Homo sapiens: one gene and its partners. The gene in region 2 interacts genetically with the main gene of each other region. Each region holds a gene or a part of one and is shown on either strand. Other genes may lie near its edges.

Region 1 (3,650 bases), on a different chromosome or scaffold from region 2:
TAAGGGAATTCAAGCCAAGCAGATGAGAATGCAGTCAGAGTTCTCTTAGAAGCACTGGTTCATGGCCGGGCACAGTGGCTCATGCTTGTAATTCCAGCAGGCTGAGGCGGGTGGATCACCTGAGGTCAGGAGTTCAAGACCAGCCTGGCCAACATGGTGAAACACCACCTCTATTAAAAATATAAAAATTAGCCAGGCGTGGTGGCGGCACCTGTAATCCCAGCTACTCGGGAGCCTGAGGCAGGAGAATCGCTTGAACCTGAACCTGGGAGGTGGAGGTTGCAGTGAGCCGAGATCGTGCCACTGCACTCCAGCCTGGGTGACACAGCGAAACTCTGTCTCCAAAAAAAAAAGAAGAAGAAGAAGCACTAGTCCATGAAATGCTGGACCTGGGAATGCCAGGGATCAGTGGATTTGGATACTGGTCTGGATCCTCCGAGGGAAACCAACCTCTAAGACAGACCGAACCACCTCCTGTCGGCTCTGCTCCACCTCACGGATCTGAGCTGCCATCTGTGGGAGAGAGGCTGCTTAGACAGGTACAGGATCATGGGGGCCAGTTTCTTCAGAGGCCTTTCCTTTAACTTGGGCCCTCCACCCCCAGGCGTGGACCAGTACTGGTCTGTGGCCTGTCAGGAAGCAGGCTGCAACAGCACTGCCGCCTGAGCTCCTGTCAGATCAGTGGTGGTGTTACATTCTCATAGGAGCACAAACACTATTGTGAACTGGGCATGCAAGGTATCTAGGTTGCGTGCTCCTTATGAGAATCTAGTGCCTGATGATCTGAGGTGGAGCAGTCTCATTCTGAAACCATCCCCTGCCTGGGTCCATCTGTGGAAAAACCGTCTTCCACGAAACCAGCCCCTGGTGCAAAAAGGGTGAGGGACTGCTACTTTAACTTACCTCCTTGATCACTTTATCCTCCTTTTCTTCATAGGAATCCAAACCTTTCACCATGGATTTCTTGAATCTAAAAAGAAAAGGGGCAAAACCACCCAGAACCCATTCCCCACCAGTTAAAACGAAAAGCTCCTCAGTAGATATTTTTTTAATTTTGAGAAATTCCAAATTCAGAAACAAAACAGTATAGTAAGCACCTATGTACCTCTCACCCAGAGTCCTTGTAAACATTTTGCCATACTGGCTCCACTTCTTTTGTACAGACACACGTCCTTTTTGCCAAAACAAAATAGGTTTAGACGTCAAACCCTATTTTCAACACACATCTCCCAAGAGGAGGAACATTCTATACAACCATGATACCATTACCACATTAAGAAAATTCTTCCTTTTAGTGTTCAAATATTTGGCTGGTTAGTATAGACATGGTTTACATGTCTTCAGACTTGAGTGTAGGCATACAGGCTATATTCACATTTCCCTCGTCTCAAAAACGTGCATTATGCCTTCTCTACTCTCACCTCCAATCCCAAAGTCCAACAAAAGATCACATGGAATCCAGCTATTAGGTCTCTAGTCTTCCCCTAGTCTGGAACAGTCTTACTGTTTCCATTACTTCACATCCTCAGAAGAATCCAGGCCAAATCTTGCATACTGTCCTAAATTTCTTTGTCTTTTTTTTGAGACGGGCTCGCTCTGTTGCCTAGGCTGGAGTGCAGTGGCACAACCTCAGCTCGCTGCAACCTCTGCTCAAGAGGCTCCCAGGCTCAAGAGATCCTCCTGCCTTAGCTTCCTGAGTAGGTAGGACTACAGGACAGCACCACTATGCCTGGCTAATTTTTGTGTTTTTTGTAGAAACAGGGTTTTGCCATGTCACCCATGCTGGTCTCGAACTCCTGGGCTCAAGCAATTCTCCTGCCTTGGCCTCCCAAAGAACTGGGATTACAGGCATCAGCCACTATGCCTGGCCTTAAATCAGTAATTTGTACTGTCACCTCCCTATTCAAATGCCTCCATTCCTTACTTGTATCTTCCTTTTGCCATAGTGAAAACCCTGGTTCTCAAAACCCTGGTTCTCAACACAAAGTTTCAGTATAATACCAATACCACTATCAACAGTGTTCCCTGAGAGCCTTGAATATATCCAAGGAGACAATGGCTTGAGCCACACCTTACCGAATTGTGGCTGAAAGGCTTGTTTAATCCTCCTGGAACACGAGGGTGGAAGGTCTGCCAGAAGCTGCTATGAGGCCATCTCCCACTTCCCTCCCCATCTCCCCTAGGAGGTTGTCATCAAATGGTTTCTCATCAACTCCCAGGTTCTGATGAGGTATGGGGCTTTCTGTTCCACCCCTCTCAGATTAAAATTGCAGAATATTAAGCCACTTAGTTTTAAAAAATCATTTAAGCCAGGCGCGGTGTGGCCCACGCCTGTAATCCCAGCACTTTGGGAGGCCGAGACGGGTGGATCAAGAGGCCAGGAGTTCAAGACCAGCCTGGCCAACATAGTGAAACCCTGTCTCTACAAAAACACAAAAAATTAGCCAGATGTGGTGGCAGGTGCCTGTAATCCCAGCTACTTGGGAGGCTGAGACGAGAATTGCTTGAACCTCGGAGGTGGAGGTTGCAGTGAGCCGAGATCGGGCCACTGCACTCCAGGCCAGTGACAGAGCAAGACTCTGTCTCAAAAATAATAATAAGTTGTAGGGAAAAGAAAGAAAGATCAGACTGTCACTGTGTCTATGTAGGAAGGAAAGACATAAGAGACTCCATTTTGAAAAAGACCTGTACTTTAAACAGTTGCTTTGCTGAGATGTTGTTGATTTGTAGCTTTGTCCCAGCCACTTTGACCCAGCCACTTTGACCCAACTTGGAGCTCACAAAAACATGTGTTGTATAAAATCAAGGTTTAAGGGACCTAGGGCTGTGTAGGACGTGCCTTGTTAACAAAATACTTACAAGCAGTACATCTGGTAAAGGTCATTGCCATTCTCTAGTCTCAATAAACCAGGGGCACAATGCACTGTGGAAAGCCGCAGGGACCTCTGCCCTTGAAAGCGGGGTATTGTCCAAGGTTTCTCTCCATGTGATAGTCTGAAATATGGCCTCGTGGGATGAGAAAGACCTGACTGTCTCCCAGCCCGACACCTGTAAAGGGTCTGTGCTGAGGTGGATTAGTAAAAGAGGAAAGCCTCTTGCAGGTGAGATGGAGGAAGGCCACTATCTCCTGCTTGCCCCTGGGAACTGAATGTCTCGGCTTAAAACCCGATTGTACATTTGTTCAACTCTGAGATGGGAGAAAAGCTGCCCTGTGGCGGGAGGCGAGACATGTTTACAGTGATACTGCCTTGTAGTCTTTACTCCACTGAGATGTTTGGGTGGAGAGAAACATAAGTCTGGCCTACGTGCACGTCCAGGCATAGTACTTTCCCTTGAACTTAATCGTGATATACATTCTTTTGCTCACATGTAATTTGTTGACCTTCTCCTTATTATCACCCTGCTGTCCTACTACATTCCTTTTTGCTGAAATAATGAAAAATAATAATCAATAAAAACTGAGGGAACTCAGAGGCCGGTGCCGGTGCAGGTCCTTGGTGTGCTGAGCACCAGTCCCCTGGACCCACCGTTGTTTCTTTATACTTTGTCTCTGTGTCTTATTTCTTTTCTCCGTCTCTCATCCCACCCGACTAGAAATACCCACAGGTGTGGAGGGGCAGGCCACCCCTTCAATAAGTAAAATTTAAAAA
Region 2 (3,650 bases):
CCACCTCAAACCTCCCAAAGTGCTGGGATTACAGGCATGAGCCACGGAGTCTGGCCAAATTTTTTTATTTTTAGTAGAGATGGGGTTTCACTATGTTGCCCAGGCTGGTCTTGAACTCCTGGACTCAAGCGATCCTCCCACCTCAGCCTCCCAAAGTGCTGGGATTACAGGTGTGAGCCACCATGCCCTGCCTGCTCTGGATTTTGAAGTCACCACCTGTAACTGGGAATGCCTGGCTTGGCCTGCCCAGCCTCTTACAGAACTGTTCTAAGGACTGAATGTGTTGGGGATGTGAGGACACTGAGAACACAGGAGCCCTGGGGCACTCCTGTCACCTGCTGCTTCATCTTTTCTATAAGTGACACAGGGACCTCTGCCAATCAGCCCTGGATCCCAGCATCCAGCTGTTGACAGCTGAGAATCTGGGACTAGGTGATCTCGGCCCAGCTCCCTCTAGATCACAGCCCACACTGGATTTGCACAGCAGGGAGCCTTAGCGTAACACCAGGGTTAGAGTCTCCTAGGGAGCTAGGAGACCCCACTGCCCATGAATTTTCCTGTGGCCTTGCAACCACAGCCACGCCTGGCCTGCTGAGCAGCCTGGCCACCCCCTCACTTGAACCTCTGAGCCTCAGCTCCCTCAAGTGAAATGCGGAGTCTGGGAAGCCTTTAGAAACACCATGCCTAGTCCCCAAACCTGCCTCTGGGGAGGGGATGGGGTTGGGGAATCAGTGGTTTTAGCCTAAAGGTCTCCAGGTGATCCTAACCTGCAGCCGGAGTTGAGAATCACTGCCCTAGAGAGTTGTCGAGAAAAGCAAATGACGAACTATGAAAAGCACCAGCATGTAGCAGGCATGCGATCCATGCTCATTCCTTGTTTGTGAACTCTCAGTTTCAGGCCTTTTTTGAGGCGGGGTCTCACAATGCTGCCCAGGCTGCTCTTGAACTTCTGGGCTCAAACAATCTTCCCACCTCAGTGTCCCAAAGTGCTAGGATTACAGGGGAAAGCCACCACACCTAGCCCCAACCAGGGAACTCTCTCTCCACCTCTCCTCCCTTCTTGGCTGCTGGATTTGGTTCCTTCTTCGGAGGCCCTGTCCCAGAATCCTGCTCACCAACCTACAGGGCATCGGCCCCACTCTGGCTCATTCCAGGAGCTCCTGGCCCACCCTCGCCCCACCGCCAAGTGCCCATATCTCTCAACCTGGCTCCTGCCAGTCACCCTCTGGAACCTCCCTGGCTGTTCCTCAGTGTGAATGTCCAGTGACAGCCGTGCAACAGCACAACTCCCCTCTCTGGGCACCTCCCGGGAAACAGGCCCTGTGCTAGGCACTTCCGACCTTAGCTCATTCACCCCAATTGTTCTTGCTCTGAGAGGCCTTTCCCAGAAGAGCCTGCCTTCCTTCTGCAACTGGGTTATTCACCCGTGCCTGCAGCCAGTCATTCAACTGCCACTGACCGCACCCAACTGCTCCCCACGAAGCAGTCTGCGCTGTCAAGGCAGGTCTGGCCACGGCAGCTAAAGCCCTTCAAAGGCTGCTCTCTGCCCTTGGAACAGGGACCCCCCCACCTCCGCCCCCTGCTTATGATGGCCTCCACAGGCTTGGAAGATCCCTGCCCCAGAGCCAGCTTGAGCCCTACCATTCTCCCCTGGCCTGCTCCGCCCAGCCACACCCTCTCCCTCCTGCTCCGAGAGCCCTGGTGCTGGACTCAGGGCTGCCTGCTTCTCTTCACACCCTCCACCCAGAACTGCATGGCTAGCTTTCCCCTATTTTAGCTGTTGGCTCAAACATCACCTCCTTCTAGGGCCTTCCTCCTGTCCACAGAGCCTTCAGTCAGCGTTGTTGGGGAAAGAGCTCACCTACCAGCCTGCTCCTCTGAGGGCCCAGTGGCTCAGGCCTCCCTCTCTTTTGATCCTCAAAGAGCCCAGACCTAGACTGTCACTGACCCACAGGAGTCTTTGATGATAAGAAAGATCAGAGAGCAGGGCTCCAGGAGCCTGGCCCCCAGCCAGCGGCACCCACCTCGGAACATGTCGTACCAGACCTTCTTGGCCTTGAGGTGCTGCAGCCCGTTCAGGTGCTTCTTGCGGTTGTGGAGGTTGTCCTGGAAGGAGCGGTCGCAGTAGTCACAGAAGTATCGCTTCCCCATGGCCACTCAGAGCAGGTGCTTTGCTGCCTGGGAAGCCACAAAGAGCTCAGATTAGACCATTGGAGAAAACACATCCCTCACCAGCCCACTGAATGCTTCCTGAGGGCCAGGCCTGAGCCCAGGCTTTACTCATATGCACCCCGCCCCATTAGGAGTGTCAAGCTGATGAGTATGGCCTAAGAGGCCTCATTCCAGAGGGATCTGTTAACCATTCTGATGCCCAGCCTGCAACTTAGGCCAGTTAAAGTAGAACCTCAGTGGGTGAGGCCTGGGCACTGTTTTTTCTTGAGAGGGTGTTGCTCTGTCACCCAGGCTGGAGTGCAGTGTTGCAAACACAGCTCACTGCAGCCCCCACCTCCTGGGTTCAAGCAATCTTCCTGTCTCAGCCTCTCAAAGTGCTGGGATTACAGGCATGAGCCACTGTGCCTGGCTGCTGTTTGGTAGTTTTTAAAGTCTATCAGGTGATTCTAACATGTAAGTAGGCTGAACTGCCACCTTATACCCTGTGGCTGGCCTCCCTTGTCTCCTACCACATAGGGTTTTATTTTTTTGAGACAGAGTCTCGCTCTGTCACCCAGGGTGGAGTGCAGTGGTGTGATCACGGCTTACTGTAGCTTTAACCTTCTGGGCTCAAGTGATCCTCCCACCTCAGTCTCCCAAGTAGCTGAGACTACAGGTGCGTGTCATCATTCCTAACTTAAAAAAACAATTTTTTTGTAGAGATGGGGTCTCGCTATGTTGCAGAGGCTGGTCTCCTGGGCTCAAGTGTCCTCCCGCCTTGGCCCCCCAAAGTGCTGGGATTACAGGTACGAGCCACCGCCCCATCCCCTACCATACCTCTGACCTCCACATTTGCATCATATAGGCCACACCGGCCTCCCCTTTGCTCCTCACACATGCCAGGCACATGGCCACCTCCCGGCCTTTGCACCCAAGGCTCCCCAGGGAGGGGTATGCCCTCCTGCAAACTCCCGCCTCACTTCCCCTCCTGACCCCTTCCATCTTTGCTCCAATGCTACTTTATCCAAGATGGCAGAATCTTCCACTTAGCTTCCTCCACTCCCTGCTTTATTTTCCCTCATAGCATGTATCACCCTTTGATATGGTGAGGCTTTGTATCCCCACCCAAATCTCATCTCGAATTGTAATCCCCATAATCCCCAGGTGTCCAGGGAGAGACCAGGTGGGGGTAACTGACATGGGGGTGGTTTCCCCCATGCTGTTCTCATGATAGTGAAGAGTTCTCACAGGATCTGATGGTTTTATAAGGGGCTCTTCGTGCTTTGCTCAGCACTTCTCTCTCCTGCTGCCTTGTGAAGAAGGTGCCTGCCTCCCCTTTCCCTTCTGCCATGATTGTAAGTTTCCTGAGGCCTTCCCAGCCATGCAGAACTGTGAGTCACTTAAACCTCTTTCCTTTGTAAATTACCCAGTCTTGGGTATTTCCTTATAGCAATGTGAGAACGGACTAATACACCCTTCATGCAATAAGTTACTTGTTA
Region 3 (3,650 bases), on a different chromosome or scaffold from region 2:
CCTGAGAATGCTCAATAAATATTCATTAAATGTTGAATAAACAACCCTTTCACAGCCCCAATTTCCACAACTGATTTAGTGCTGACTATACACAATTTGCAAATTCAAATGGCCCAATTCCTGGCAGGGTGAATATGGATGATAAGCAGCTAATTCTGGTCAGTATAACCATATATTTAACTACCATGACCTTCTGCTTGGAAGAAAAAAATGTCTTCCATGGAAGTAAAATGTTAGTGACACACATACCTCCATTCTTGTTGCCTCCCCTCCTTTCACAATCGGCACTGTTTTTCCAGCATGTATTCTATATTGCCCAATTGAATGTCCATTTAGATTACGGATTGGTTTCACTGTTATAAAAAATAGGGAAATAAAAGTCATTCAGGATCTCAAGAAGCAAAAACAGATCTCTTACATTTTGGTACAGAGTTCAAGCATTTATTCAAAAACCAGGTATGGCTTTACTAAATAACCTTACATTAAGGTAGTTTAATATAAACTGGAATCTAGTGGAATATAAAAAGTAGTTGCAGTGTTATTAATACTAGAAGTAGGCCAGGTGCAGTGGCTCATGCCTGTAATCCCAGCACTCTGGGAGGCCGAGGCAAGCGGATCACCTGAGGTCAGGAGTTCGAGACCAGCCTGACCAACATGGCGAAACCCTGTCTCTACTACAAATACAAAAATTCGCTGGGTGTGGTGGTGGGGGCCTGTAATTCCAGCTACTCAGGAGGCTGAGGCAGGAGAATCACTTGAACCCGGGAAGCGGAGGTTGCCGTGAGCCAAGATCACATCACTGCACTTCAGCCTGGGCGAAAGCAACTCCGTCTCAAAAAAAAAAAAAAAAAAAAAAAACGGTGCTAGAAGGGAGGATGGAAGAAAGAAATACAGGATTAAGGGCACAAGGGAGGTCATCTAAGGAGGTATAAGGAGGTACTGTTAACAACAAATAAAATGCCATGTACACAAATTATTAGAAACATAAAAAATACATATTTGTATTGTTACAGACCAAAAGATAATGTGAAAGATACTGTTAATATGACAGTATTATAAAACTTTATATCAACATTTCAAATGTTCAAAAAGAAAACCTATGTGGCTGAGACACAGTAATTAAGAAATAGAAGTAAGAAAGAAGAAAGAAAATCTAAACATCCCACTGTCATGACAGCAAGGACAGAATAGACAAATTGTGGCATATTCACGAGGGAATAACATTCAACAATCAAAACAAAAAGCTAGGAATACATTTAACAACTGGAATAAAACGTCTAGCTTTTTTATTCCAGTTGTTTTAAAACTGACAAAATGAGCAGAAAAAGGCACAATTACATATATACTGTACAATTCCACATATATATAATAGTTCAAAATTAGGCAATAAAACTAGTTTAGGGATGCATAATTAGGTAGTAAAGACATAAAGAAAAGCAAATGAAAATCCTTTCATACTTGCAGTGCTGATAAGCTAAATATATTTTAAAATTCAGACATCATTACTATTTCTCTAAGACCTGGCAAACTGACCCCACAAGCCAAGATGGTGGCTCACTAGAGGCAGGCTGCTGTAATTGGAAAGCAGTGTATTGCTGCTATGGTTTGAATGTATCCCCCAAAGGTCATGTATTGGGAATTTCATCCCCAGTGTGATGGTGTTGGGAGGTGGGACCTAACAGGAGGAGTTTGGGCCATGGAGGCACCACTCTCATCAATGAATTCAAGCCATTATCTCAGGAGTGGGTTCCCTGTAAAGGACAAGTTTGACCATTTCTTGCTCTCTCTCTCAAACTTCTCATTGCCCTTCTGCCTAATGCCATAGGATGATGCAGCAAGAAGACCTTCACCAGATGCCAGTCCCTCAATCTTCCCAGCCTCCAACACTGTGAGAAATCAATTTCTGTTCTTTATAAATTACCTAGTCTCAGGTATTCTGCTGTAGCAGCACAAAACGGACTAAGAAAATGAGACTGAGCGTCTTCTGGAATACTGGCAATATTCAATTTCTTGAGGAGTGAGGTTACGTAGCTTCTGCAATTGAGAAGCTGAGTTTTTATGCTTTGTGCATTTTGTGTTAATATTTCAAATTTTAAAAAAGGGCTAAAAACGGCCAGGTGCAGTGGCTCACGCCTGTAATCCCAACACTCTGGGAGGCCAAGGCAGGTGGATGACTTGAGGTCAGGAGTTCAAGACCAGTCTGGCCAACACAGTGAAACCCCATCTCTACTAAAAATATAAAAATTAGCTGGGCGTGGTGACACACCTGTAGTCCCAGCTATTTGGGAGGCTGAGGCAGGAGAGTCACTTGAACCCGGGAGGCAGAGACTGCAGTGAAATGAAACTGCACCACTGTACTCCAGTCTGGGCGACAGAGTCTCAAAAAAAAAAAAAAAAAAAGGTTGGGGGGGAGGTCTTAAAAAAATTTAACTCTATAACTCTAGAATCCTCAGTATGAGCTACCTTTCTTCTAGAGCAGAGTTAAGTAGTCTGAAGCAATGAACAAGTATGTTACAAACTTAGTGGGACAGCAAGAAAAACAAATCAATTCACTCTTCACAACAACCTTCTTATATAAATGTGTCAAAGTTGTCAGACTCAAACAGAGCTAGGGAAAGCCATGAAGAGAGGGTTCTCATGCTTATACACCTGATAATGAAAATGACTATGAAAACCATAACCTTGCACAAAGCCCACTGCAACCTTACACAAAAAAATACTTCTGCAAGGACATCTGCCCAACAACTGCCTGCCCAACCTCCGACTGGCGTCACTTTTGTTATTAATCTTTGGAGCCAAGGATAATTATTTCAAAACAATTATGTCATCCTCATTTTCGTCTTCAAAAACCTCTGTCTTCCTTACCTCCCTGAATATGCACAAGTTTACTATGGCATTCCCACTGCAATGCTCTATTCCCAAACATCATTTTCTTTTAGAGAGCCTCTGTTTGTTATTTAGGTTGACAAGTAACAAGCTTATTTTAAAATTCAAACTTTGCAGACTGACCCTTACAAGCCAATCAATTTTTTTAAAGAAAGTTTCTTAGCCATACCAACCTAATATGTTAGTTACACAGAAAAATGAGGGTACAGGGGAATTCATTTTTTACTTATGCAGGTTGTAACAGCACAGGCTAATTCTGGGACCAGTAATTTGTTAACAATCACTTTTTAATTCTATTGCTTCCTGATCAAAGGAGATTAAGATACTCCTTTGATGGCCCGTTTGTGCTATGTGTTTTGATTTGTTCTGGAAAGTTCAACCCGGAATCCATTTCTTCATCTCCCTATTATCATGATTTTTCCACATCCTCTCTGCTTAAACTATAAAAATGGATTGTTGCCTTAAACTAAGAACACTGATCAATAAAATAACAGGGATCAAAAGAGGGGTACTGAAATAATGAAACCAAAAATGCTGCACTAGCTTAATGGAAGAGGTAAAAGGGTAGATATTAAAAATCCCGATGTTGCAGGCTGGAATTATTATGCAGTGACTAAAACATTAAGTCAAACTGTCACCTACCATACCTTGAAAGGCAGACCACATACCAAACAAGTTGTAGAATTAGGAGAAAATGAAAGGAAAAAGAGAAGACATTGGTATATGTTGGCTAGTGTTGGAATTTACAAAAATTTCAGCAAATT

Evidence for each region.
Region 1: changes in ZMAT5 (region 2) and CENATAC together harm fitness more than expected from each alone (negative genetic interaction), as found in Homo sapiens cells (one large-scale study listed by BioGRID).
Region 3: changes in ZMAT5 (region 2) and METAP2 together harm fitness more than expected from each alone (negative genetic interaction), as found in Homo sapiens cells (one large-scale study listed by BioGRID).

What each region holds. Positions count from the first base shown.
Region 1 is NC_000011.10:119,008,084-119,011,733, reverse strand, and holds part of CENATAC (centrosomal AT-AC splicing factor), read right to left. Parts: intron 971-3,650; coding exon 904-970; intron 514-903; coding exon 451-513; exon of another isoform or gene 423-450; intron 1-422. UniProt on the Homo sapiens protein: Component of the minor spliceosome that promotes splicing of a specific, rare minor intron subtype. Negative regulator of centrosome duplication.
Region 2 is NC_000022.11:29,746,394-29,750,043, forward strand, and holds part of ZMAT5 (zinc finger matrin-type protein 5), read right to left. Parts: intron 2,179-3,650; 5' UTR 2,152-2,178; coding exon 2,025-2,151; intron 1-2,024.
Region 3 is NC_000012.12:95,508,598-95,512,247, reverse strand, and holds part of METAP2 (methionine aminopeptidase 2), read right to left. Parts: intron 354-3,650; coding exon 250-353; intron 1-249. UniProt on the Homo sapiens protein: Cotranslationally removes the N-terminal methionine from nascent proteins. The N-terminal methionine is often cleaved when the second residue in the primary sequence is small and uncharged (Met-Ala-, Cys, Gly, Pro, Ser, Thr, or Val).